Homo sapiens: one gene and its partners. The protein of the gene in region 1 purifies or fractionates together with the protein of each later gene. This does not show direct contact. Each region holds a gene or a part of one and is shown on either strand. Other genes may lie near its edges.

What was found.
Region 2: the proteins of NFKBIB (region 1) and HNRNPM purify together in Homo sapiens (tandem affinity purification; one large-scale study listed by IntAct). This does not show direct contact.
Region 3: the proteins of NFKBIB (region 1) and POLR1E purify together in Homo sapiens (affinity purification with mass spectrometry; 5 studies listed by BioGRID and IntAct, with this or other methods). This does not show direct contact.
Region 4: the proteins of NFKBIB (region 1) and RASAL2 purify together in Homo sapiens (affinity purification with mass spectrometry; 2 studies listed by BioGRID and IntAct, with this or other methods). This does not show direct contact.
Region 5: the proteins of NFKBIB (region 1) and RELB purify together in Homo sapiens (affinity purification with mass spectrometry; one large-scale study listed by BioGRID and IntAct). This does not show direct contact.
Region 6: the proteins of NFKBIB (region 1) and RPS6KA4 purify together in Homo sapiens (affinity purification with mass spectrometry; one large-scale study listed by BioGRID and IntAct). This does not show direct contact.
Region 7: the proteins of NFKBIB (region 1) and LYZ purify together in Homo sapiens (tandem affinity purification; one large-scale study listed by IntAct). This does not show direct contact.

What each region holds. Positions count from the first base shown.
Region 1 is NC_000019.10:38,902,969-38,906,178, forward strand, and holds part of NFKBIB (NF-kappa-B inhibitor beta), read left to right. Parts: intron 1-2,046; coding exon 2,047-2,152; intron 2,153-2,233; coding exon 2,234-2,567; intron 2,568-3,210. UniProt on the Homo sapiens protein: Inhibits NF-kappa-B by complexing with and trapping it in the cytoplasm.
Region 2 is NC_000019.10:8,447,975-8,451,474, reverse strand, and holds part of HNRNPM (heterogeneous nuclear ribonucleoprotein M), read right to left. Parts: intron 1-3,500. UniProt on the Homo sapiens protein: Pre-mRNA binding protein in vivo, binds avidly to poly(G) and poly(U) RNA homopolymers in vitro. Involved in splicing.
Region 3 is NC_000009.12:37,499,448-37,502,947, reverse strand, and holds part of POLR1E (DNA-directed RNA polymerase I subunit RPA49), read right to left. Parts: intron 2,109-3,500; coding exon 2,027-2,108; intron 1,236-2,026; coding exon 1,104-1,235; intron 1-1,103. UniProt on the Homo sapiens protein: Component of RNA polymerase I (Pol I), a DNA-dependent RNA polymerase which synthesizes ribosomal RNA precursors using the four ribonucleoside triphosphates as substrates.
Region 4 is NC_000001.11:178,454,104-178,457,603, reverse strand, and holds part of RASAL2 (ras GTPase-activating protein nGAP), read right to left. Parts: intron 3,158-3,500; coding exon 2,956-3,157; intron 905-2,955; coding exon of another isoform or gene 884-904; coding exon 705-883; intron 1-704. UniProt on the Homo sapiens protein: Inhibitory regulator of the Ras-cyclic AMP pathway.
Region 5 is NC_000019.10:45,032,464-45,035,577, reverse strand, and holds part of RELB (transcription factor RelB), read right to left. Parts: intron 3,045-3,114; coding exon 2,829-3,044; intron 1,335-2,828; coding exon 1,266-1,334; intron 1,128-1,265; coding exon 1,050-1,127; intron 1-1,049.
Region 6 is NC_000011.10:64,369,162-64,372,715, forward strand, and holds the end of RPS6KA4 (ribosomal protein S6 kinase alpha-4), read left to right. Parts: intron 1-284; coding exon 285-458; intron 459-537; coding exon 538-732; intron 733-1,063; coding exon 1,064-1,223; intron 1,224-1,401; coding exon 1,402-1,565; intron 1,566-2,121; coding exon 2,122-2,319; 3' UTR 2,320-3,054; downstream 3,055-3,554. UniProt on the Homo sapiens protein: Serine/threonine-protein kinase that is required for the mitogen or stress-induced phosphorylation of the transcription factors CREB1 and ATF1 and for the regulation of the transcription factor RELA, and that contributes to gene activation by histone phosphorylation and functions in the regulation of inflammatory genes.
Region 7 is NC_000012.12:69,347,209-69,351,180, forward strand, and holds the start of LYZ (lysozyme C precursor), read left to right. Parts: upstream 1-1,172; 5' UTR 1,173-1,200; coding exon 1,201-1,336; intron 1,337-2,899; coding exon 2,900-3,064; intron 3,065-3,972. UniProt on the Homo sapiens protein: Lysozymes have primarily a bacteriolytic function; those in tissues and body fluids are associated with the monocyte-macrophage system and enhance the activity of immunoagents.

The DNA of each region.
Region 1 (3,210 bases):
AGAGGCAGGAGAATCGCTTGAACCCGGGAGGCGGAGGTTGCAGTGAGCTGAGATCACGCCACTGCACTCCAGCCTGGGCAGCAGAACGAGACTCCATCTCAAAAAAACAAAACAAACAAACAAAAAAAGAAAAAGAAAAACAAAACCAAAAAGAGAAACCATATGACCTACAAAGACTAAAATAGTTATCTGGCTCCTTACAGAAAAAGTTTGCTGACTCCTGCTGTAGGGTTGATAGTTTACAACTTTAGGTTATCATGGGCTACCTTAAAGTGATATTATGCCATTTCACATAGAGTAAAAGAAATTTATTTTATTTTATTATTATTATTTGAGACGGAGTCTCACTCTGTTGCCCAGGCTGGAGTGCAGTGGCACGATCTCAGCTCACTGCAACCTCCATTTCTCAGGTTCAAATGATTGTCCTGCCTCAGCCTCCTGTGTAGGTGGGATTACAGGCGCATGCCACCATGCCTGGCTAAATTTTTTTTGTATTTTTTGTAGAGACAGGGTCTCATCGTGTTGGCCAGGTTGGTCTCAAACTCCTGACCTCAAGTGATCTGCCCGCCTTGGCCTCCCAAAGTGCCAGGATTACAGGTGTGGGCCACCGTGCCCAGCATAATGAACTGTTTTAATATTCTTGTTTGCAAATTCTAACATCTCTGTCATTTCTGGGTCAGTTTCAATTCACTGATGGTTCCTATTATGGATCATGTTTTCCTGCTTCTTTACATGCCTGATAATCTTTGGTTAGGTGCCAGACATTGTGAATTTTGCCTTGTTAGTCTGGAGAATTCTGTATTCCTATAAATATTCTTGAGGCCGGGCGCCGTGGCTCACACCTGTAATCCCAGCACTTTGGGAGGCCAAGGCGGGTGGATCACGAGGTCAGGAGTTCAAGATCAGCCTGGCCAACATGGTGAAACCCTGTCTGTACTAAAAACTGCAAAAATTAGCCAGGTGTGGTGGCACGCACCTGTGGTTCCGGCTACTCGGGAGGCTGAGGCAGAAGAATCGCTTGAACCCAGGAGGTGGAGGTTGCAGTGAGCCACGATCGTGTCACTGCGCTCCAGCCTGGGCGACAGGGCAAGACTCTCTCTCAAAAAATAAAAATTAAAATAAATAAATAAATAAATAAATAAATAAATATTCTTGAATATTATTCTGGGATGGAGTTAAATTACTCGGAAGTAGTTTGAGTCTTTCCAGTTTTGCTTTTATGATTTGTTAGGTGGGTGTTGAGCAGTGCCCCATCTACAGTTAATTATTCCCCACTATTGAGGCAAGACCTTCCTGAGTATCCCACCCGATAGCCTGTGATGATGTTTTTCCAGCCTGGCTGGTGGGAACACTCACTATTCCTGGCCCTGTGTGAGTAACGAGCACTTTTCTGAAATCCTTTTGGATGGTTTTCCCATCCCCACAGACTCACAGGCATGGCTGATCCGTATTCTCCGGAATACACAAGAGAACCTCCTGCAGTTCCCCAGCAATCTCTCCTTTGGCAACTCTGTTTTGTACTCTGTCCTGTGACTCTAGCCACGCTGGCCTCCACAGACTCTTCCTCCATATCCATCTCCTGACCTCAGACAACCTGATGCGCTCTGCTTGGATTCCCCTCTCTGCACCGTGGCTTTGAAACTCTCTCAAGACAATAAGCTGTGGCAGTCAAGTGTGGGGCCCACCTCGTGTTTCCTGTCTTTCAGGGGTCACTGTGATTCATTGCACGATGTCCAGTGTCTTCAACACTGTTGCTTCATATACCGTATTTCGTCTGACTCTTGTTTGTTTGTTTGTTTGTTTCACGTGGGAGTGAATTCTGGTCCATGTTACTTCATTTTGGGCAGAAGTGGAAATCCCACTGAATAAACATTGATTCCACGAATTTGCTGATGAAACTCTGACCTCTGACCTCCCAGATAGCTGACAGGGGGTTCCAGAACTGTGGTCACAAGGCCTAGCATACAGTAGGCGCCCCATGTTTGTTCAATGAAGGAATGCAAGAGGACTTGAACTTTGCCCTCTCACCCCGGTCTTTGTCCCCAGGGCACTGCACTTGGCTGTGATTCATCAGCATGAACCCTTCCTGGATTTTCTTCTAGGCTTCTCGGCCGGCACTGAGTACATGGACCTGCAGAATGACCTAGGCCAGGTGAGCCACGAGGGATGGTGTAGGGCTTGGGGTCCAGGGTTCCCAGTGTGACTCCCTACCGCCTGTCCTCTGCTTCTGCAGACAGCCCTGCACCTGGCAGCCATCCTGGGGGAGACATCCACGGTGGAGAAGCTGTACGCAGCAGGCGCCGGGCTGTGTGTGGCGGAGCGTAGGGGCCACACGGCGCTGCACCTGGCCTGCCGTGTGGGGGCACACGCCTGTGCCCGTGCCCTGCTTCAGCCCCGCCCCCGGCGCCCCAGGGAAGCCCCCGACACCTACCTCGCTCAGGGCCCTGACCGTACTCCCGACACCAACCATACCCCTGTCGCCTTGTACCCCGATTCCGACTTGGAGAAGGAAGAAGAGGAGAGTGAGGAGGACTGGAAGCTGCAGCTGGAGGCTGAAAACTACGAGGGTGAGGGTCGTCACCAGGGAAGGACTCAGCTCCTGGGCTAGGCGAGAGCACCTGGCCCTGGGCTCAGCTTCCCTGATTTGAGACTGAGCTCCTTGGGAAATCATGCCTAGGCTTCAGGAGCCCACACATCGGGACCAGGGACCTCCACTCAGGGCCCAGATGATTGAGAATTGGATATGTAGGACCCAGGACCCCCACCTGGAGGCCCCAGGTCACTTGGGATGCAGACCTGTCACCCACAGACCCAGAGCTGCCAGGATCCAGTTGTCGGGCCCCCGGGCTCCCCACCTGCAGAGTGTATTGCAGACCCCTACCCTACCCAGGACCGGGGAATGCAGAGCTCAGGCCCTCTGTGAAACTCTGGCACCCCAGGCTCCCAGCAATGGGCAGCAGGGTTCAGAGACAGCCCTCCTCAGCCTCATGGGAAGAAGGGCTCATCTGCCCACAGCCCTGACATCCAAGTTTCTGCTCCCCTGCCTATAAGCCCAGCCACCTGAGACCAGACCCCTCCTCAGATGGACTGACGTCATTCAGGACCCAGTGTTCAGGGCCTGCCTCTCGCCCCCAGGTCACAGGCTTTTCAGCTACTTGGTACCTTTTTTTTTTTTTTTTTTTTTTTTGAGACAGTCTCACTCTGTTGCCA
Region 2 (3,500 bases), about 30 Mb from region 1:
GCTCTTTTTTTAACATGTCCAATCCTATTTTCTCACTATCTTCAGGACAAAATTAGGGGAAGATTCTTCTCTAGTCCATGTATATGTATACGTACATATAAAAACTTAACTCTGCAAGTCTTTTTAACTTTTGGCTGGGCGCGGTGGCTCACACCTGTAATCCCAACACCTTGGGGGGCCGAGGCGGGCAGATCACCTGAGGTCAGGAGTTCAAGACCAGCCTGGCCAACATGGTGGAAACCTGTCTCTAATAAACATACAAAAATTAGGCCAGGCACGGTGGCTCACGTCTGTAATCCCAGCACTTTGGGAGGCCGAGGCAGGTGGATTATCTTAGGTCAGGAGTTTGAGACCAGCCTGGCCAACATGGTGAAACCCCGTCTCTACTAAAAATACAAAAATTAGCTGGGCGTGGTGGCAGGCGCCTGTAATCCCAGCTACTCGGGAGGCTGAGGCAGGAAAATTGCTTGAACACAGGAGGCGGGGGTTGCAGTGAGCCGAGATTATGCCATTGCACTCCAGCCTGGGCGACAAGAGTGAAACTCCGTCTCAAAAACAAAACAAAACAAAACCAAAAATTAGCCGGGCATGGTGGCGGGTGCCTGTAATCCTAGCTACTCGCTACTTGGGAGGCTGAGGCAGGAGAATCACTTGAACGGGAGGCGGAGGTTGCAGTGAAGTGAGATAGCGCCACTGCACTCCAGCCTGGGCAACAAGAGCAAAACTCCATCTCAAAAAAAAAAAAAATAATAATAATAATAATTAATTAAATTAAATTAAAAATACGATTAATGCCTGTAATCCCAGCACTTTGGGAGGCCAAGGTGGGCGGATCACTTGAGCTCAGGAGTTCAAGAACAGCCTGGGCAACATGGTATAACACCATCTCTACAAAATATTAGCTAGGCATGGTACCATGTGCCTGTGGTCCTATTTACTCAGAAGGCTGAGGTGGAAGGATCGCTTGAGCCCAGGAGCTGGAGTTGCAGTGAGTAGAGATCGTACACTGCACCCCAGCCTGAGGGACAAGAGTGAAACTCCATCTCAAAAAACAAAAAAACCCTAATAAAAAGATTGAGTGCCTAATCTGCAAAAGACCACCACCAAATAGTGACTGCCTACCCTCTCTTAAGGTCTCCATGCAGTTCCCATGCGTAACACTCACTACTTTTGGAGTTTCTAATCAAGGAAAGGGTGCAGTTTGAAATGGCAATCCCAATACCCTGAAATTGTGATCACATCTCCTGAGGGACAAGGACCCCTCTGCCCGTGTGAGAACCATCCCTTATATAAAGTGATTCTTCACAGAAATCCCTCAAGTCCTGCGCTGCTCTAATGCATGTAAGGTGTGGAGAGCACTATTCACAGCACCATTCCAGCTCCAAGGCCACCACTGAACTACCCACATGACTCAAGCTCTTTCTGTCTCTAGCGCTTTACCAGCAAAACCAGCGCAACCTGTATGCATGGTAGCTCAGAGGGACACTGTGACAATCAACAAAGAATGGCAAAACAAAAAGCAGCTCATCTAGGGAAGCAGTACTGCATGTGGCTAAGAGCTGGGGTCACCATGTCGTCACTAGGCCTCGGTCCTATGGAGGCTACTACCTACACGCTTACAGCTTTAAAAGAGACTCTTAGGCCGGGCGCGGTGGCTCACGCCTGTAATCCCAGCACTTTGGGAGGCCGAGGCGGGCGGATCACGAGGTCAGGAGATCGAGACCATCCCGGCTAAAACGGTGAAACCCCGTCTCTACTAAAAATACAAAAAATTAGCCGGGCGTAGTGGCGGGCGCCTGTAGTCCCAGCTACTTGGGAGGCTGAGGCAGGAGAATGGCGTGAACCCGGGAGGCGGAGCTTGCAGCGAGCCGAGATCCCGCCACTGCACTCCAGCCTGGGCGACAGAGCGAGACTCCGTCTCAAAAAAAAAAAAAAAAGAGACTCTTAGCACACAGTGAGGCAATGATGTATTTTTCTACCAATAATTTTATTGAGAAGGGTAGAGAGGGGGACTGATTCACTCCTAGCCTTCTACTGTTCAGGCTTTAAAACTAGCAAACCAGAGCCAAGGCTGAGAAAACCTAGGCATCATAATCATTACAGACTAGCAAAGGGACAATTTAGCTTTCAACCCTATGACTGCAAAATATGGTAATGGGGAAGTCCATTGGAGAACCCCCCCTCCCAAAAAAACAAGCAAGCTAATCTTTGCAGGCTAGTATCTCTTTCCCTAACCAGAATAAAATCAAAGAGCTGAGTGAAAGCAAAGGCCTGGCAGCATGCATTCAAATAATCCAAAACCCTGTCTTCTAATCTTGAGCTCACAATCTGACGTGTCTCCAAAATCCTTTTTGAATAAACAATCACTCTTTAAAGTACAGCAAACACTCAAATGCATTGTATAGAGAATCTGATTTAAATAAAACAATTCAAACGGCTGTTTACTGAGTGGTTACCAAGGTAGTATCATGAAAGCAGCAAGCTGCCTGGGAGTCAGGAGGGCCTCCCCTGGAGTCTTTAGGTCAGGTTCCTGAACCTGGGTTTAAGTGTTTAAAACGAAAGTTTTCTTGATTGTCAAATGGAGTCAACTCTAACAGTACCTCCTCAGGAATCTACCCTAAATATATATTTTTATTTTTATAAATAACCAATCCATCTGTTTCTTATTCACCCACAAAATTACTCAGGAAGGGGCCAGGTGTGGTAGCTCACGCCTATAATCCCAGCACTTTGGGAGGCCAAGACGGGCGGATAACGACGTCAGGAGATCGAGACCATCCTGGCTAACAGAGTGAAACCCCATCTCTACTAAAAAAAAATATTAAAAAAATTAGCCAGGCATGGTGGCGGGCGCCTGTAGTCCCAGCTACTCGTGAGGCTGAGGCAGGAGAATGGCGTGAACCCGGGAAGCGGTTCACGGAGCTTGCAGTGAGCTGAGATCGCGCCACTGCACTCCAGCCTGGGCAACAGAGCGAGACTCCATCTCAAAAAAAAAAAAAAATTACTCAGGAAGGGGAGCAGGTTAAGTCATTTATTTTATATATGATACTACATTTAAAAAAATTTTAAAAACCTATACATTCCCCTAAAATGAACTTTTTTTTCCCTGACTATACCCTAACTCTGAATCTTTGCTGACTTTAATTGGAACAGACTTCTCATCAAAATTAAGCAAATCCTATTCTCACACCCAGGAGAGAAGTAACTGCAAAACAAGATTTCCAACCTGGGTTCCCAGATCAAGCTTGCTAGCTCACTGCATTTGTGGTCTACTGCACACTCCACTCCTGGTAGAGAAAGAATTCCAAAGAACCAAGTTTCTATTTTTCTCCTGTCTCTCAAAGGCTTTCAAGATAAAAATCCAAATTCACTGCCCATCAGCTGGCTGCCAGTGCTCCAACCTTAAAACTCTATAGCAACTTCAGTGTTCTTGTTTGTTTGTTTGTTTGAAGAAGGAGTATCGCTCTGTCGCCCAGGCTGGAGTGCAGTGGCCCAATCTC
Region 3 (3,500 bases), on another chromosome or scaffold:
CATAAAGACAGAATCCCAAAGGTTGCCAGCAGGCACAAAGCCCCTGGCAGAGAGGCAGGCAAGGTCCCCTCACCCGCTGGGAACCATCAGACAGCCAATTTCATTTTAATGCCCTTCAAAAGATCCATATGGGTGATGAAAAACCAGGGTATCTACAGCCCCGTGAGCAACTTTCTTTACCTCCCATAACCAAACTTTTAGCAACCAGGATTGAGCACTTGCTAGAATCTGACAGGTTCCAAGTACCTGTTCTCTTTTTTTCAGCCTCACTGCCTGTGGGAACACAGTTTGTGGACAGCCCTCAGAACAGTCCCTCCACGGACTGCTAGAGAGTCCAGACAGAGGTGTGTTCACAGGCTCTCCTAGACACCCTCTGGGCCACTGGATGTCAGATGCCCCTAAATCACTGACAAAGATCAGCTGACCTCACAGTTCAGGTTCCTGGGCAGCTCTGCCCCTACTGTCTGAATCTCCTCTACAAGGCTAGATGGAGCCTAAAAGGTCACCTCCACCACCAGCTCTCCCAGTTGGGTCAGAGAAGTGCAAACATAAAATCCCTGCCAAACAGCAGTTCCACCTGGCCTTGGAACCAGCGGTTCCCCTGGCAAACCCTTCCATCTGATTGTGAGGAAGCTCTTCTTACTAAGCTCAAATTGGGTTGTCCTACAACTTCCACCCTGAGCTGCACTCCTCAGAACCATACAGAATCCCTCTCCCCTGTGACAGCAATTCAGAGAATGGAGGCTGCCTGGTTATTCAGAACAGAATGTTATGGAAAGGCTCAGGTCTCAAGGCCAACTACTCCCCTCTTGGTTGTGTAACCTTGAGAATGTTACGTACTTTTCTGAGCCTGATTCTTCAATTGTTTTCTAGGGAAATCAGTGAGATAATGACATAATTTATCTAGCACAGAGAAGGCACTCAGTAATGTCTAGTTGCTCATTCAGTCAATGATTCATTCATTGAAAATAGTCCTTTAGTTCCAAGTTGTTCCCACATTTAAACATCCTCAGTTCCCTTGGTGGTGCCTCATGCTTTCCAGTGGTACCAGAAATAAGACATCGAGACACCCTGCAGGGAGCTCTTTATTCTGTTGTGCTCACCTTTTCTCACTGAGCTTCAAGTCCCTCTGTAACACTGTCAGGTCAATTTGGAAGTCATGTATGTGCAAGGCAAGTATGATCACATATGCAGTAATCTTCGCCTTCATAGAATCCGAAATTAAGTTCCGTAATCTAGAAAATCAGTGGCAATAAAGGAGAAACAAAATTAAACTCTCAGACAATTTCTCCAAAAGCAAAATAAGAACATCCAATCCTATTCTCATATGCACGGAATGTCTTCCCAACTTCAGGAAAGGAAAAGGAATGTGGGTGACTTTGCCCTTCCAAGGTTCCTGGGCCTCACACACAGTGGAGCAGTGTGCCAGTCCATGTTTCCCTCTGAGGCAGATAGAGAAAGCTGGGCCTACACTCTACCTGGGCACTGCTAGCGCTTTGAGCTGGTGAGGGCCCTGTGAGTCTGTCCCCGCCTGCCCAGCAGGGCTGCTGGGAAAACAATCATCCCGAAATCAGCTGTGCTGATTCTTCCAAGCACACTCAAGAGCAGAAAACACACGCCATGCAAATGGCAGGAAGGAAGCCCAGGGGCAGGGCCTGCGGGTCTTTCCCCAGAGTCACCGAGTTGGGCTGCCCTTTTCTGCAATGCTGCCTTTCCGCAGAACACCAGCTCTGTGAGACATCGGGAAGGGCTATTCAAAAGTATGTGAAGTAAAACAAGTCTTTATTGTAGGACTTCCCAGAGCTTCTAAGGTTCCCAAAAGGTAATACTTTTCTAAGAAGGGCAGAGTATGTCATATTTAGCATTTGCTAAACTTACTGGGGCCCCAGGAGCCTTCCAAATGGCAGCAGTCTTTTCAGCACTGCATCTCCGTGGACATGGAATTGAGTCCAAGCCCCTGCTCCTCACTCCCAACCCCCACCTACTTTCTCCTGCACAAGAAAAATCCCAGCAACCACCCCCTGACCTGCCATTGTTGTAGGTCAAGCAAGTAAAGTGCTTCAGCAGTTTGGTGTTGATGATGTGGGGAACTCCAGGTCCCAGAGCACCTACAACACAAAGTTGAGTTTGATCATTTTCTCTCAAAACCCTCAGGCCACACCTCAACCATGAGCTAAGAGAAAAGGCCAACAGCTGGGCCACTGCAATGACCAGAACCAGGTGGTAAGAGAAGCAGGGCCCACACAAAGCAGAACAGCCACATCAAAATGAAAACATGCTTGGTGTGCTGCAGCCTGCAGTTTGCCCTGCACGAGAGATGCTGGTGATGGGGCAATGACAAGAAAACACAGCCTGAGGCCTAAGGACCCAGAGTTAACATGACCTTAGAAAACAAAAATTGTGCTGAAAGCTCAGGGAGAGAGGGGGAAAGGTGGAATTGGAATGTGAAAATAAGAACTAAGTGGCCAGGCGCGGTGGCTCACGCCTGTAATCCCAACACTTTGGGAGGCCGAGGCAGGCAGAACACCTGAGGTCAGGAGTTCAAGACCAGCCTGACCAACATGGTGAAACCCCATCTCTACTAAAAACACAAAAATTAGCCAGGTATGGTGGCGCAAACCTCTAATCCCAGCTACTTGGGAGGCTGAGGCAGGACAATTGCTTGAACCCAGGAGGCAGAGGTTGCAGTGGGCCAAGATTGCGCCACTGCACCCTAGCCTGGGCAATAGAGTGAGACTCCATCTCAAAAAAACAAAACAAAACAAAACAAAACAAAACAAAACAAAACAAAAAACAACTGGCTGGGCATAGTGGCTCACACTTGTAACCCCAGCACTTTAGGAGACCAAGGCAGGCAGATCATGAGGTGAGGAGTTCGAGACCAGCCTGACCAACATGGTGAAACCCCGTCTCTACTAAAAATACAAAAATTAGCCGGGTGTGGTGGCGGGCGCCTATAATCCCAGCTACTCAGGAGGCTGAGGCAGGAGAATCCCTTGAACCCAGTAGGTGGAGGTTGCAGGGAGCCGAGATCGAGCCACTGCACTCCAGCCTGGGCGACAGAGCGAGACTCTGTCTCAAAAAAAGAAAAAAAAAAAAGAACTAAGCAAATACAAGCTGGGTGCAGTAGCTCACGCCTGTAATCCCAGCCAGCATTGTGGGAGGCCAAGGAGGGTGGATCACCTGAGGTCAGGTGTTCGAGACCAGCCTGGCCAACATGGAAAAACCCCGTCTCTACTAAAAACACAAAAATTAGCTGGGCGTGGTGGTGCCCGCCTGTAATCCCAGCTACTCGGGAGGCTGAGGCAGAATTGCTTGAACCCAGGAGATGGAGGTTGTAGTGAGCCAAGATCATGGGACTGCACTCCAGTCTGGGTGACAGAGCGAGATACTGTCTCAAAAAAAACAAAACAAAAACAAAACAAAAAAACAACAAAAAAAGCATGACTAAGCAAATACAGTCATGTCCCACATTACAGTGTTTTGGTCAATGACAGGCC
Region 4 (3,500 bases), on another chromosome or scaffold:
CTCCTCCGAAGGTTCTTATGTGGATACGTACATTTCTTTGGAAACTCAGATTTTATCTAATTAGGGAATTATTACAATGCTTAGAATAAAATCCAGCATTTTTACTTTTTCCCCAAAGGTACAGAATAACACTGTAGATACCAACCCATCACTGTCTTCAGTTTTAACCAGGATTCCAATAATTTCCTAGTTAGGTTTTAAACCTTCCCCAAATATTCCAATTCATACTTACTTGTCTAAACCTTCAAGAGAAGAAGTTCTAAGCACACAACTGAAAGGTCCCTGCAAAAGGCACAAGTCTTGCCAATCCCTAAAACAGTCTAAGCATCGACATTGTATCTACCTGTCCAGTTGACATAGCCAGCTATAAAATGGTTTTAACCGAGGTTCTCCAAGATTTTGAATGCTATAACGTACAGAAACATGAATTTCATAAAGCCTTTAGTCTTCCACTAAGCAAGACAGAAATTTTAAAAATATGCTTGTGGAATATATTGTAACTCTCTATACTACCATTCTAGAAAATAAGTCATCCCAGATCTTGTGCATTATTATGACAAATAATTGGACTGCTCTCAGGTCAGATGAGTCTTCAGTTGCTCATGATTTTAAACTTGTAAATTCAACAAATAGGTTGAATATACTTCTGCTAAATCTAAACATTATGTTTCTCCGAGATAGTGGTCAAATTCTCTCTTTCATACCTGTCAGTGGGGTCTTCAAATATTTTCTGCAGCCCAGAGGAGAGGCTTCCACTGACATTTGGACTGGAGTTATGTTCAGTGAAGCGTCTCAGTTGCTGTTGTATTGGCGTAGGATTAGTCAATGACTTGGTAATATCAGCAAGAACACGAGGGAGAGGCCCCAATTTTGCCACGGTCGCCTGTAGGAAGGAATTTTCACCCTAATTGGATAATAAGCATTGCGACATCCACCACAGATTGTTTTTGGCACAACGATGGCCATTGATGGAGGGGTGTAGGTTGGAGGGAAGGGTAAGTGTTTGCATATGGGAGTGGCAGGTTCATAATGCATTGTTATGGAGCAGCAGAACCATGGCGTCGAGATGAATGGAGGAGGCGAAACAAGGTGCGGCAGACATCGAGGAAAGAAAGGAAATCGAAATCAGGATTATGCAAGTAAAAATTAAAAGACATGCTCAAAACTACCAAACTAATGCCATTCCAACTAAAATAGGCATGCGAAGCAAACTAAATCTTTGGGAGGCTAGTAGATCAAGGTGGGGGAGGGTGGAGGCAGAACCAAATTCCTTCTAACCAAAAGAACTTCAAGATCAGAGGATCAACTAGTATGATAAACTTTCAAAGAAAAGGGATCATGTGAGAAAAGAAATGCATGCCAACATATAAGAAGGTGCTCATTCAGGAATCCAGAGTACTGCAGGGCACACAGATGATACTGCCATCCACTATCCCAGTCAATCTTGGGAACCCTGACCCACTGCCAACTGAGTTTCCATCAGTAAGACAATTTTTATTGTTAATTTAACAGCAAAATCAGGTAAACTTCCTCTATGAGATATGTCTAGATGTATTCCTGGTTCCCAGGACCAAACACAGATTAAAAAGGAGAAAGTGTGTTTACATAGCAAAGCCCGTTAAAAAGACTTTGATCCTGAATAAACCAGGCCCATTTCACAGGAAAACTGAATCTGCATTCCACTGAGATGCAGTTATTCAACAAAGACGAACTCTTTAATACTTGCTTTATCCATTTCAATCATTTTTTTATTTAGGGAATTCTTATTCTCATGGGGTCTTAGGGGTCCCCTTCAACTGTCAGTCAGTTTGGCATAGCTGCCTTTGGGTCTTTGCCTTCTCAACAATCAACAGACTCTTCTACCCTACTCAAACAGGGATAGATGCCACCAAGGCCTTTACTTGCTCAATAATGTTGGGCTACGATTCACATGAAAAGGGTTTATCTTTGGCATAGCTGCAACTTAAAAATCTAGCTAGCATTTCTAAAAGTGAAGAAAAGGTCCTCGAGAATAAGGAACAGTTTATTGTTTTACAAATATTTTAAGCACTGGAGGACACATTACCACATATGTTTCCTCAGCAAAGTGGTCTTTGTTAATAGGTTTTATTCCCCTTCAAATTTTACTGATATAGCATTTTTATTGATAGGAAAATAGAGGAAAATAAGTAGATCATTATCATAGAAAAATGACTGTCTTTTGAAGTTATTCTAACATACCACCACACATATTTATAAAGTGCCTGTAGCAAACAAAAACATCAATAAATAATTATTGTAATAAGCCTAGCCAACGTCTTTTAGACTATTTTTTACTACCAAATCTATTCCTTTTTGTTAAATTCCAGAAGGAAGAAAATGATTGGCATGGTGTATATTTACTTATTAATACGGTATATAATAAAATTCTTAGCAAACGATTAAAAATAATTGCTTTCTGTATTCTTAATTCACATCTGTAAAGAAAGAAAACAATGACTGTTAGCACTAATAATTATATGAAACTCTATGACTTGTATAGTAAAAAAATTTGTTTCATGGGTAGTTACTTAAAACATGATAAACCTAGTATTTTCTTAGCTAAATCTATACTTTTATTAGAAATTACTATATGAGGTTTCATCTTATCCTATTAGACATGCATAAGGCTGTATATACCAATATATTAGTTTCTAGTCAAGTTTTCAGATATGCACTCTGTATATATAAATTTAGAGAAATATACTCCATTAATTCAGATAATTATTAAAAACATATATTAATAATGTCATGGTTTTCTAGAGTTTCATGGTTGTCGATCTCATATTTTACTCAGAAATGATGACCATTTACTCTCAGATTTCTAGGGTAAACAGTTGCTTTCAATTAGCAGAAAGAGTGAGTGCTATCACTCTATAGTTACTTTCCAGAATTCAGGTACATTAAAGTTCTCTATCTTCCACCAACCTACTTTACCTTATCAAGTTGGGAAACTACTTCCCACAGTAAGGAATGCAAAACTGAAAGCTCTCGGCCCAGATCAATGTAACCATCAAAGCCTGGGGTGTTTGAGATGGTGTCTGGATTAGAGATCTCCAAAAGAAAGCGCTTCATTCCACCCCATTCATGTTCTAAAAAATCATTCATGAATGCCATGTATTCCTCTTTGTTACCAAACCTGAAGTAGAGGATGAGAAAATGAGAAAGAACATATTCAAGAGAGATATGATCATTTTGATTTGACATTACACAGAACTATTACTTTTTTTTATTTTGTGGAGGGAATGACTAATTTTGTTTATTATCTATAAGTGATAAATGTTATAACATACTTTCTTAATATCACTTTAATATTCTAATGCTTTGAGAATAGCTTTCTATTCTCTCTAAAGGGTAAAGCCAAAACTCCTTTTTTTTTTTTTTTTTTTAGTTCTGGGATTTAAATTTCTCTGCAATATAGCCCTCACTTACCTACCAAAAGCTCACCAGTACAAACCTTCAATACTGCTAGCTTCTACAAA
Region 5 (3,114 bases), 6.1 Mb from region 1:
GGGATTACAGGCGTAAGCCACAGTGCCAGGCCTGTTTTGTTGTTGTTGTTGTTGTTGTTTTGAGAAGGGTCTCATTCTGTTGCTCAGGCTAAAGTGCAGTGGTGCAATCTTGGCTCACTGCAACCTTCACCTCCTGGGTTCAAGTGATTTGTCTGCCTCAGCCTCCAAGTAGCTGGGACTACAGGTGTGCACCACCACACTCGGCTAATTTTTGTATTTTTAGTAGAAACAGGGTTTTACCACGTTGGCCAGGCTGGTCTCAAACTCCTGGACTGAAGCAGTCCACCTGCCTCAGCCTCCCAAAGTGCTGAGATTACAGGCATGAGCCACTTTCAGTCCCTACAGACTATGTATGTGAGACAAGAAATAACGTTCTATCCTGTTGAAGCCCCTGTTATTTTGGGTTTTGCTGTAAATGCAGTTAAATGTGATCATAGGTGGGATGCAGTGGCTCATGCCTGTAATCCCAGCACTTTGGGAGGCTGAGGCAAGCAGATCACCTGAGGTCAGGAGTTCAGGACCAGCCTGGCCAATGTGGTAAAACACCGTCTCTACTAAAAAATACAAAAATTAGCCAGGTGTGGTGGTGTATGCCTTTAGTCCCAGCTACTTGGGAGCCTGAAGCAGGAGAATCGCTTGAACTCAGGAGGCAGAAGTTGCAGTGAGCTGAGATCATGCCACTGCACTGCAGTCTGGGCGACAGAGCGAGACTCCATCTCCAAAAAAAAAAAAAAAGAAAGAAGAAATAGATCAAATTTTAAAACACCACTGAGCTAAGTATGTACTGGGCCTTTTCAAAGGAGTCCCTGAGGCTCTGAGAGGTAGAACAACTTAATGAAGTTCACATAGCAAGGAAATGGCCCAGAAGAGATCAGAACTTCCATTCTGTCTCCAAAGCCCTCATTCTTTCTACTCTATGTTGCTGGCTAAGTGCTGAGTGACTCGCCTTGTGGCTGCTCTTGGAGGGCGTGAAGAGGCCAGAAAAGCAGGGCTGCCACTTACCCTCTGCCCACCCAGGGGACAGGGGCTTATGTGTAGCTGGGACCCACCTGAGCCGTGGTTGGGCAGGAAGTGGTCCAGGATGGCCGGCTTTTTCTTCCGCCGTTTGCTCTCGATGCCATGGGGGTCTGAGGGAAGGCAGAGATGAGGACCCCTGTTCCCCGACAGCCCTTCCTCCCCAGCCTGGGGTGGGACAGGGCAGTGGGGTCAGCTGTCCCCTCCCCAGAACCTGGGGATGGGGGTGGAAAGGGGCAGAGGGCACACACCAGAGCTGTTCAGCTCCCCAAGGACGTCGGGCATCCCCCGTTTCCGCTTCTTGTCCACGCCGTAGCTGTCTGTTAAGGAGATACCAGGGACACACAAGAAGTAATTCATCAATAATAATTAATTCCTTTATTTATTTATTTATTTATTTATTTTTAGAGACAGTCTTGCTCTGTTGACCAGGCTGGAGTGCAGTGGCACGGTCTTGGCTCACTGCAACCTCTGCCTGCCAGGTTCAAGTGATTCTCCTGCCTCAGCTTCCCAAGTAGGAGGGATTACAGGTGTGCGCCACCACGCCCAGCTAATTTTTGTATTTTTTTAGTAGAGATGGGATTTCACTATATGTTGGCCAGTCTGGTCTTGAACTCCTGACCTCAAGTGATCTGCCTGCCTTGGCCTCCCGAAGTGTTGGGATTACAGGTGTGAGCTGCTGTGCCAGGCCTATTTTTTTTTTTTTTAAAGATGGAGTCTTGGCTGGGCGTGGTGGCTCACTCCTGCAATCCCAGCACTTTGGGAGGCTGAAGTGGGCGGATCACCTGAGGTCAGGAGTCCGAGACCAGCCTGACCAACACGGCGAAACCCGGTCTCTACTAAAAATACTAAAATTAGCCGGGCATGGTGGCGGGTGCCTGTAGTGAGTCTTGCTCTGTTGCCCAGGCTGGAGTGCAATGGCACAATCTTGGCTCACTGCAACCTCTGCCTCCCGGGTTCAAGCAATTCTCCTGCCTCAGCCTCCCGAGTAGCTGGGACTATAGGCGCCCACCACCACGCCCGGCTAATTTTTGTATTTTTAGTAGAGACGGGGTTTCGCCATGTTGTTCAGGCTGGTCTCGAACTCCTAACCTCAGGTGATCCGCCTGCCTCAGCCTCCCACAGTGCTGTGATTACAGGCATGAGCCACTGCGCCCGGCCTACACACTGGCCTCTTTGTTGTTCCTGGAGCACCCCAGGCACAATCCGGCCTCAGGACCTTTGCACCTGCTGTTCCAGCTGTTTAAAGCACTCTTCCTCCACTCTCACTATTTCCCTAGAAAACTTCCCTGCTTAGTCATCCTCCTGTCCTCAGCTCAGCTGTCCCCTCCTCCAAGAAGCATTCCCTGACACCTACAGCTGGGTCAGGTACCCCCTCTGGGCAATGTGAGCCCTTGAGCACTTCATTCCAGTCCTGCCCACTCTGGTCATCACTCTGTAGGGACAGGCTGTCCCCTATCCTCAGGACTATAAGCCTCATGAGGACACAGCTAGGGGCCGTGCTGGTCACTGCTGTGTCTCTAGCAATACCGAGCACAGGCCCGGGCATGTGCAGGATGCTGAGGGGAGGAAAGATTAAATACTCTCCAAATGTCACAGGACAGCTACTATTATTTCCATTTTGCACAGAAGAATGAGGCTCAGAGAGGCCAAGGTCACACAACCAGTAAGCAGCAGAGCCAGGATCTGAACACTGTCTTTGTAGCTCTGAGCCTGCATTCTAGTTCTGCCTCTTTCCCATCCCCACTGGGGTCTCCCCAAGGCCAAAGACCTAGTCTCCGAGGTGGTGGGTCACCCTGGGTTGCTGTAGTTACCATGGTCGCGAGGCAGGTACGTGAAAGGCAATGGCTCGCTGCAGACCCCATCGGTGAGCCGCTGCAGGAAGACGTTGACTGTCACGGGCTCGACAATCTCCAGGTCCTCGTAGGGCGGCGTCTTGAACACAATGGCAATCTGGCGGTGCACGTCGGCCTGGGAGAAGTCAGCCCGACCTTCCCAGGAGGCCCTGCTGAACACCACTGATATGTCCTCTGGCAGGAAACGGGGGACATCAGCTAAGCCAGGACATCTGGACCACTGTGCTCCCAACTTGCCCAGCCT
Region 6 (3,554 bases), on another chromosome or scaffold:
GCGCCTGTAATCCCAGCTACTTGGGAGGCTGAGGCACGAGAATCGCTTGAACCCGGAAGGCAGAGGTTGCAGTGAGCCGAGGTGGTGCCACTGCATTCCAGCCTGGGCGACAAAGCGAGACTGTCTCCAAAAAAGTAACAAAGAAAGAAAGAAAGAAAAAGGACTTTGAGGAGGGGGTTCTCGAACATTGGCAGGGCCCGAAGGCCGGGGGCGGGGCCTGGGTGGTGGGAGGGGGCTTGCCGCCGTGGGTGGGTGTTGACCTTGGCCCGCCACGCCGCCCGCAGCTGCACACGTACCTGGTCCTGGAGCTGCTGCGGGGCGGGGAGCTGCTGGAGCACATCCGCAAGAAGCGGCACTTCAGCGAGTCGGAAGCAAGCCAGATCCTGCGCAGCCTCGTGTCGGCCGTGAGCTTCATGCACGAGGAGGCGGGCGTGGTGCACCGCGACCTCAAGCCGGAGGTGGGCGAGCTGCCTCGGCGGCGGGGCGGAGCGGTGGCGCCGGGGGCTGCCTCTGACCACTACCCCGCCGCCCTCGCAGAACATCCTGTACGCCGACGACACGCCCGGGGCCCCGGTGAAAATCATCGACTTCGGGTTCGCGCGGTTGCGGCCGCAGAGTCCCGGGGTGCCCATGCAGACGCCCTGCTTCACGCTGCAGTACGCTGCCCCCGAGCTGCTGGCGCAGCAGGGCTACGACGAGTCCTGCGACCTCTGGAGCCTGGGCGTCATTCTGGTATGGGACGCGGTCCTTGAGGCGGGGTCAGGGTCGCTCGGACCTGGCGTCTTCCTGATGTGCAGCAGCACGAGGGAGGGGACAGGGGTCATCTTGGTGGGGGCGGCTGGGTTTCGTCCGAAGCTGGGATCGGGGTGGTTCAAATACAGAGGTGGGGTCGCTCTGGTGCTAGAGTCGGAGCATCCGGGTATTGGGGGTTAGAAGTCAGGGTTCACCACGCGTGGGTCTCAGGAGTGCCCCTAGTGGGGAGGGTGAGTGGTTCTGTGGGAGCGGAGGGGTCAGCCTCGGCACCCCAGCCTGGGCCGGCCTCACCTTCCCCTCACCCTCCTAGTACATGATGCTGTCGGGGCAGGTCCCCTTCCAGGGGGCCTCTGGCCAGGGCGGGCAGAGCCAGGCGGCCGAGATCATGTGCAAAATCCGCGAGGGGCGCTTCTCCCTTGACGGGGAGGCCTGGCAGGGTGTATCCGAGGAAGCCAAGGAGCTGGTCCGAGGTGCGGAGCTGGAGGTCATAGACCATGGTTGGGGAGGGGGACGCTGGGACAGGGATGGTCACTGGGCCAGGTGTCCTGGTTGGGGATGGGTAGGGGAGGAGAGTGGGGCTGTTACGATCTCTTTGGGGCTCAGCCTTTACGCCAGGCTCCTCCCCACACTTCCTTGCCCCGCCTCCAGGGCTCCTGACCGTGGACCCCGCCAAGCGGCTGAAGCTCGAGGGACTGCGGGGCAGCTCGTGGCTGCAGGACGGCAGCGCGCGCTCCTCGCCCCCGCTCCGGACGCCCGACGTGCTCGAGTCCTCTGGGCCCGCAGTGCGCTCGGGTCTCAACGCCACCTTCATGGTAAGGGGCAGGGTCTGTTGAAGGGAAGGGGTGGGCGAAGCCTCGAGAGGTGGGGTCTGGGGAGGCCCGGCCATCGGAGCACAGAAAGGCGAGGTGAGGCCGGGCGCGGTGGCTCACGCCTGTAATCCCAGCGCTTTGGGAGGCCGAGGCGGGCGGATCACGAGGTCAGGGGTTCGAGACCAGCCTGAACAACATGGTGAAACCCCGTCTCTTCTAAAAAGAGAAAAATTAGCCGGGTGTGGTGGCGCGCGCCTGTAATCCCAGCTACTCAGGAGGCTGAGGCAGGAGAATCTCTTGAACCCAGGAGGCGGAGGTTGCAGTGAGCTGAGATTGCACCACTGCACTCCAGCCTGGGCGACAGAGGGAGACTCCGTCAAAAAAAAAAAAAAAAAAAAAAAAAGGGAGGTGAACCGAATCCGGTGGTCGGTCTGGAGGCCAAGGCCCTGTCGGCCTTGACCTAGGCGGCTGGAGGCAAGGTCTGGGAATGGAGGTCAAACTAGATCTGGAAGCCGGGGTCAGGCGGGGGTGGGGGCACTCACCCTTTCCTTTCTGCCAGGCATTCAACCGGGGCAAGCGGGAGGGCTTCTTCCTGAAGAGCGTGGAGAATGCACCCCTGGCCAAGCGGCGGAAGCAGAAGCTGCGGAGCGCCACCGCCTCCCGCCGGGGCTCCCCTGCACCAGCCAACCCGGGCCGAGCCCCCGTCGCCTCCAAAGGGGCCCCCCGCCGAGCCAACGGCCCCCTGCCCCCCTCCTAATCCCCACCACTGTGACCCCCTTCCCTCATAGGGGCTGTGACCTGGGAGCCCGGCTCACTCCCGGAGGCCTCTGCCTGCGGCTGACCTGATCCCCAAGGGACTGTCCTTTCCTCTCCTACCCCACCCCACTCCCAGACAGAGCAGAAGTATTTTTATAAGCAGAGAATTTTTTATGTCTTACCAGATAGAGTTGCAGGGAAGGGGGGGCCTGCTGGGGAGTGGGGTTTGGGGGGCCCTCTCCCAGGACACTGCCTCTTCTGGGCAGAAGGCCCCTCCAGGGGGACTGCTCCAACAGGAAAGAGCCCCTCCCCCACTTCTAAGCACTGAGTTAGGAGTGCTAACTCCTAAACTGGGACCCCCTACCCTGTTCTCCCCTGAGGCCCCGTTCCTGGGAGGGGCACCCCTCAACTGTCACTTTATGGACTGTCTGTGCAATTACGTCCACCAAAGACCCGTGTTGGGGGTACTGAAGGAGAGGCCCTGGGGGACCCTCTGAAGCATTTCTGCCTCACTTTATGTCATCTGCTTCTCCCCTGTTGGGGCTAAGGAAGGAGATAGGTGGCTCCTAAAAGAGGAGGCCATCTTCTCACCCACCCCTTCCTCTTTGGCACAGCTACTCCTGGCTGGGGGTGGGGCCTTGGGGGTCTGGGCTGGGCATCCATGGTCACTGCCTCAGCCCAGCCAGGCTGTGCCTTTGACTTTAAAATAAAAGTCCACCCAGTGCTGTGTGTGGCATCTGCGTGTCCTCGTTCGTGTTGTGGGTGTCTAGAGCAGAGATTCTGGGCAGACAGGCTGCTAGCCCGTGGAGTTTGGAACCTCAGTGGGGAGGGACAGGCAGACTCTTCTGGGCAAGAAGATATTCTTTGTTCCTTGACTTTTGCTATGAGCAGGAGGGCGCAACTCTCATCCTGGGTGTATATCCGGACAGCTCTGCTGGGTATCATTTAGGATATTCTTGGTTGTAAATACAGCTGCTGCTTGACTTAGGGTGGACCTACATCCCGATAAACCCAACCTGAATAGAAAATGCTGAAAGCCGAAAATACATTTAATGTCTGCAACACAGCAGACGGTGCCTGACTTAGGATTGTTTGATTTACCGGCTTTCAGCTTTACCATGGTGCCAAAGCGATAGGCTTTCAGTAGAAAACATAAATAAATGGTAAGGAGCTTCCTGACTTACGATGGGATTACCCATCGTAGGTCGGAAAATTCGTGTCAAGCATAAGTCAGTC
Region 7 (3,972 bases), on another chromosome or scaffold:
AAGGGTAACTACAAAGTGATGACACTTTGTGTGGCTCAGAATCTGTCCTCTTAGGCAGATACAGAAGTGCAGTTCTTTTTGAGTTCTGGTAGCATTGTTTTAAAAGCTGTGCACAGCCTCCTGAGATTGCTATTTTCAAAGGTAGCATTTAGTTGGATATATGTTTGGGTAGGTTTTATTTTTAAAATGCTGTTGCTTTCTAATGACCCCTTATGTTCTAATATGGAAAGGGGAGGCAAAGTATTGTGAAAAGTAGTTGGTAAAGTAGGCCGGATGTGGTGGCTCACACCTGTAATCCCAGCACTTTGGAAGGCCGAGGCGGGCGGATCACGAGGTCAAGAGATCCAGACCATCCTGGCCACATGGTGAAACCCTGTCTCTACTAAAAATACAAAAATTAGCTGGGCATGGTGGTACATGCCTGTAGTCCCAGCTACCTGGGAGGCTGAGGCAGGAGAATTGCTTGAACCCGGGAGGCAGAGGTTGCAATGAACTGAGATTGCGCCACTGCACTCCAGCCTGGTGACAGAGTAAGACTCCATCTCAAAAAAAAAAAAAAAAAGGTAGTTGGTAAAGTTGTTCACATGAACCTTATTTATAATAGTAAAACACTGATTTATAATAATAAAAAATTTGCTATAGTAACAAAAAGAGTCTAGAGTAAGAAACTAGCTGAGCAACGTGGTGTCACACTATACACCCATTAAGACAACAGGCACATGTGTCATGTCCATTTTGTGGAAAAGATATGTAAAATAATTTTAAGTAAAAAAGATAAATATAAAAAAGTGAATGCATACAAAACAATTTCACAAAATTGAATGTTACTCAAAAATCACAGCTCATTTTAAGCTGCACAAAATAGTCATTTTTTTCTTTATAATTGCTCAAATTCATAATCAAACAGAAGAAAGTTCCTGTCTTGGAAGTAGTGCTATGCCCCAATTCTTCCAGAGCCAGTACTTTAAACAATTCCATTTCATTATTTTCCTGTAGACTAATTCTTAGGACATCAGCATATCTCTCTTCAAGCATTAAAAAAATCTCTTTAGAGTCAGTGGATCAATAGACAGTTCCTGTTTTCCACACAACTGAAAGGGTGGAGCCCCCAAACCACAAGGGGAAGAAGGAAGTTAAAAGATGTTAAATACTGGGGCCAGCTCACCCTGGTCAGCCTAGCACTCTGACCTAGCAGTCAACATGAAGGCTCTCATTGTTCTGGGGCTTGTCCTCCTTTCTGTTACGGTCCAGGGCAAGGTCTTTGAAAGGTGTGAGTTGGCCAGAACTCTGAAAAGATTGGGAATGGATGGCTACAGGGGAATCAGCCTAGCAAACTGTAAGTCTACTCTCCATAATTCCAGAGAATTAGCTACGTATGGAACAGACACTAGGAGAGAAGGAAGAAGAAGAAGGGGCTTTGAGTGAATAGATGTTTTATTTCTTTGTGGGTTTGTATACTTACAATGGCTAAAAACATCAGTTTGGTTCTTTATAACCAGAGATACCCGATAAAGGAATACGGGCATGGCAGGGGAAAATTCCATTCTAAGTAAAACAGGACCTGTTGTACTGTTCTAGTGCTAGGAAGTTTGCTGGGTGCCTGAGATTCAATGGCACATGTAAGCTGACTGAAAGATACATTTGAGGACCTGGCAGAGCTCTCTCAAGTCCTTGGTATGTGACTCCAGTTATTTCCCATTTTGAACTTGGGCTCTGAGAGCCTAGAGTGATGCAGTATTTTTCTTGTCTTCAAGTCCCCTGCCGTGATGTGGGATTTTTATTTTTATTTTTATTTTATTTTATTTTATTTTTAAAGACAGTCTCACTGTGTGGCCCAGGCTGGAGTGCAGTGGCATGATCTCAGCTCACTGCAACCTCTGCCTTCTGGGCTCAAGTGATTCTCGTGCTTCAGCCTTCTGAGTAGCTGTGACTACAGGTGTGTACCACCACACCCAGCTAATTTTTTGTATTTTCAGTACAGATGGGGTTTCACCATGTTGGCCAAGCTGGTCTTGAACTCCTGGCCTCAAATGATCTGCCCACCTCAGCCTCCCAAAGTGGTAGGATTACAGGTGTGAACCACTGCACCCAGCCGACATGGGATTTTTAACAGTGATGTTTTTAAAGAATATATTGAATTCCCTACACAAGAGCAGTAGGAACCTAGTTCCCTTCAGTCACTCTTTGTATAGGATCCCAGAAACTCAGCATGAAATGTTTTATTATTTTTATCTACTCTACTTGATTAACTATCTTTCATTTTCTCCCACACAATTCAAGATGTGCCATGAGGAAAAGTTATTTTATAGTTTAGTACATAGTTGTCGATGTAATAATCTCTGTAGTTTTCAGATTGAATTCAGACATTTCCCCTCAATAGCTATTTTTGAATGAATGAGTGAAGGGATGAAATCACGGAATAGTCTTGTTTTCAAGATTCTAACTTGATATCCAAATTCACCTTTAGATATTATAAGAAAATTTCTATCAGAAAATCCTTATGTTTTTCTGATTAAAAAAAGCATTTTTCCATCAGCCTATGTATCTGCTATGAATTTACAAAATCTACTCAACAGCTCTGTTGATTTTTCTGTTCTTGGCTGAATGTTGCCTGAGGGATGGGAGCACGGGAAGGGTAAAAGCAATGGAACAAACATGTATTTTAATATTTTAAAAGTATGTTATATTGTTCGTTGGTGTTACAAGATGATTTGCATTACAAAAGGATTCTCTTACAAGTCCCTTATCTTAACACTAAAGTGCTAAGATATTTTATAAGTAAATCTTTATACTTATAAAACAAATCAGTAAAATAGAAGTAGCTAAGTAGAACTGATTTTGCTATAGAGTATAAGTCACTTAGTGTTGCTGTTTATTACTAAAAATAAGTTCTTTTCAGGGATGTGTTTGGCCAAATGGGAGAGTGGTTACAACACACGAGCTACAAACTACAATGCTGGAGACAGAAGCACTGATTATGGGATATTTCAGATCAATAGCCGCTACTGGTGTAATGATGGCAAAACCCCAGGAGCAGTTAATGCCTGTCATTTATCCTGCAGTGGTAAGACAAGCTAATATTTGACCAATCTGGTTATACTTACAAGAATTGAGACTCAATACAAATGAAAAAGCCTTGAAAGGTTCATGAGGGACCTAGAAAAACTACATCTCAACTTCCAGAAAGTCATTATTATTTTCCTCATAATTCCCTGAGTAAGAAATTAAAGAAGTGGTATCATAAAAGGTTGATGTTTTTTAATATACAGAAGTTTCTGGAATGACCTATTAATTTACTGTCAATGGCCTTACTGATGCTTTGTCCAGAACAATGCCATTGCTCCTGCTTACTTTGGGGAGGTTTTGGGATAATTTAGTTGTATGGTCCTTTTTCAATTGTTTTACTTTTTTTTTTATGAAATGTTCTAAATGTATAGAAAATTAGAGACATTAGTATAATAAACAGCCATATGCCCATTATGCACTTTAAAAGTTGTTAACATTTTGCCATAGTTGCTTCTTCTATGCCTTTTTTTTTTTTTTTTTTTTTTTTTTTTTTTTGCTGAGAGTTTTTTGTTTGGTTTTGTTTTGTTTTATTTTGAGACAGGGTCTCCCTGTCCCCAGGCTGTAGTGCAGTGGCACCATCACAGCTCACTGCAGCCTCAAGTGATCATCCCACCACAGCCTCCCAAGTAGCTGGGACTACAGGTGTGCACCACCATGCCTGGCAAATTTTTGAAATTTTTAGTACAGGCAAATTCTGTGTTGCCCAGGCTGGTCTTGAACTCCTGAGTTCAAGCAATCTTCCCACCTCAGCCTCCTTAAGTGCTGGAATTACAGGCGTTAGCCACTGTACCTGGCTACTGCTGAGAGACTTTTAAGTGAATTAGGAACATGATGATATTCCATTTCTAAATTCTTTAGTTTACATCTTCAAAAAATACAGTTCCTGTAGAATTATTATTGTAAATA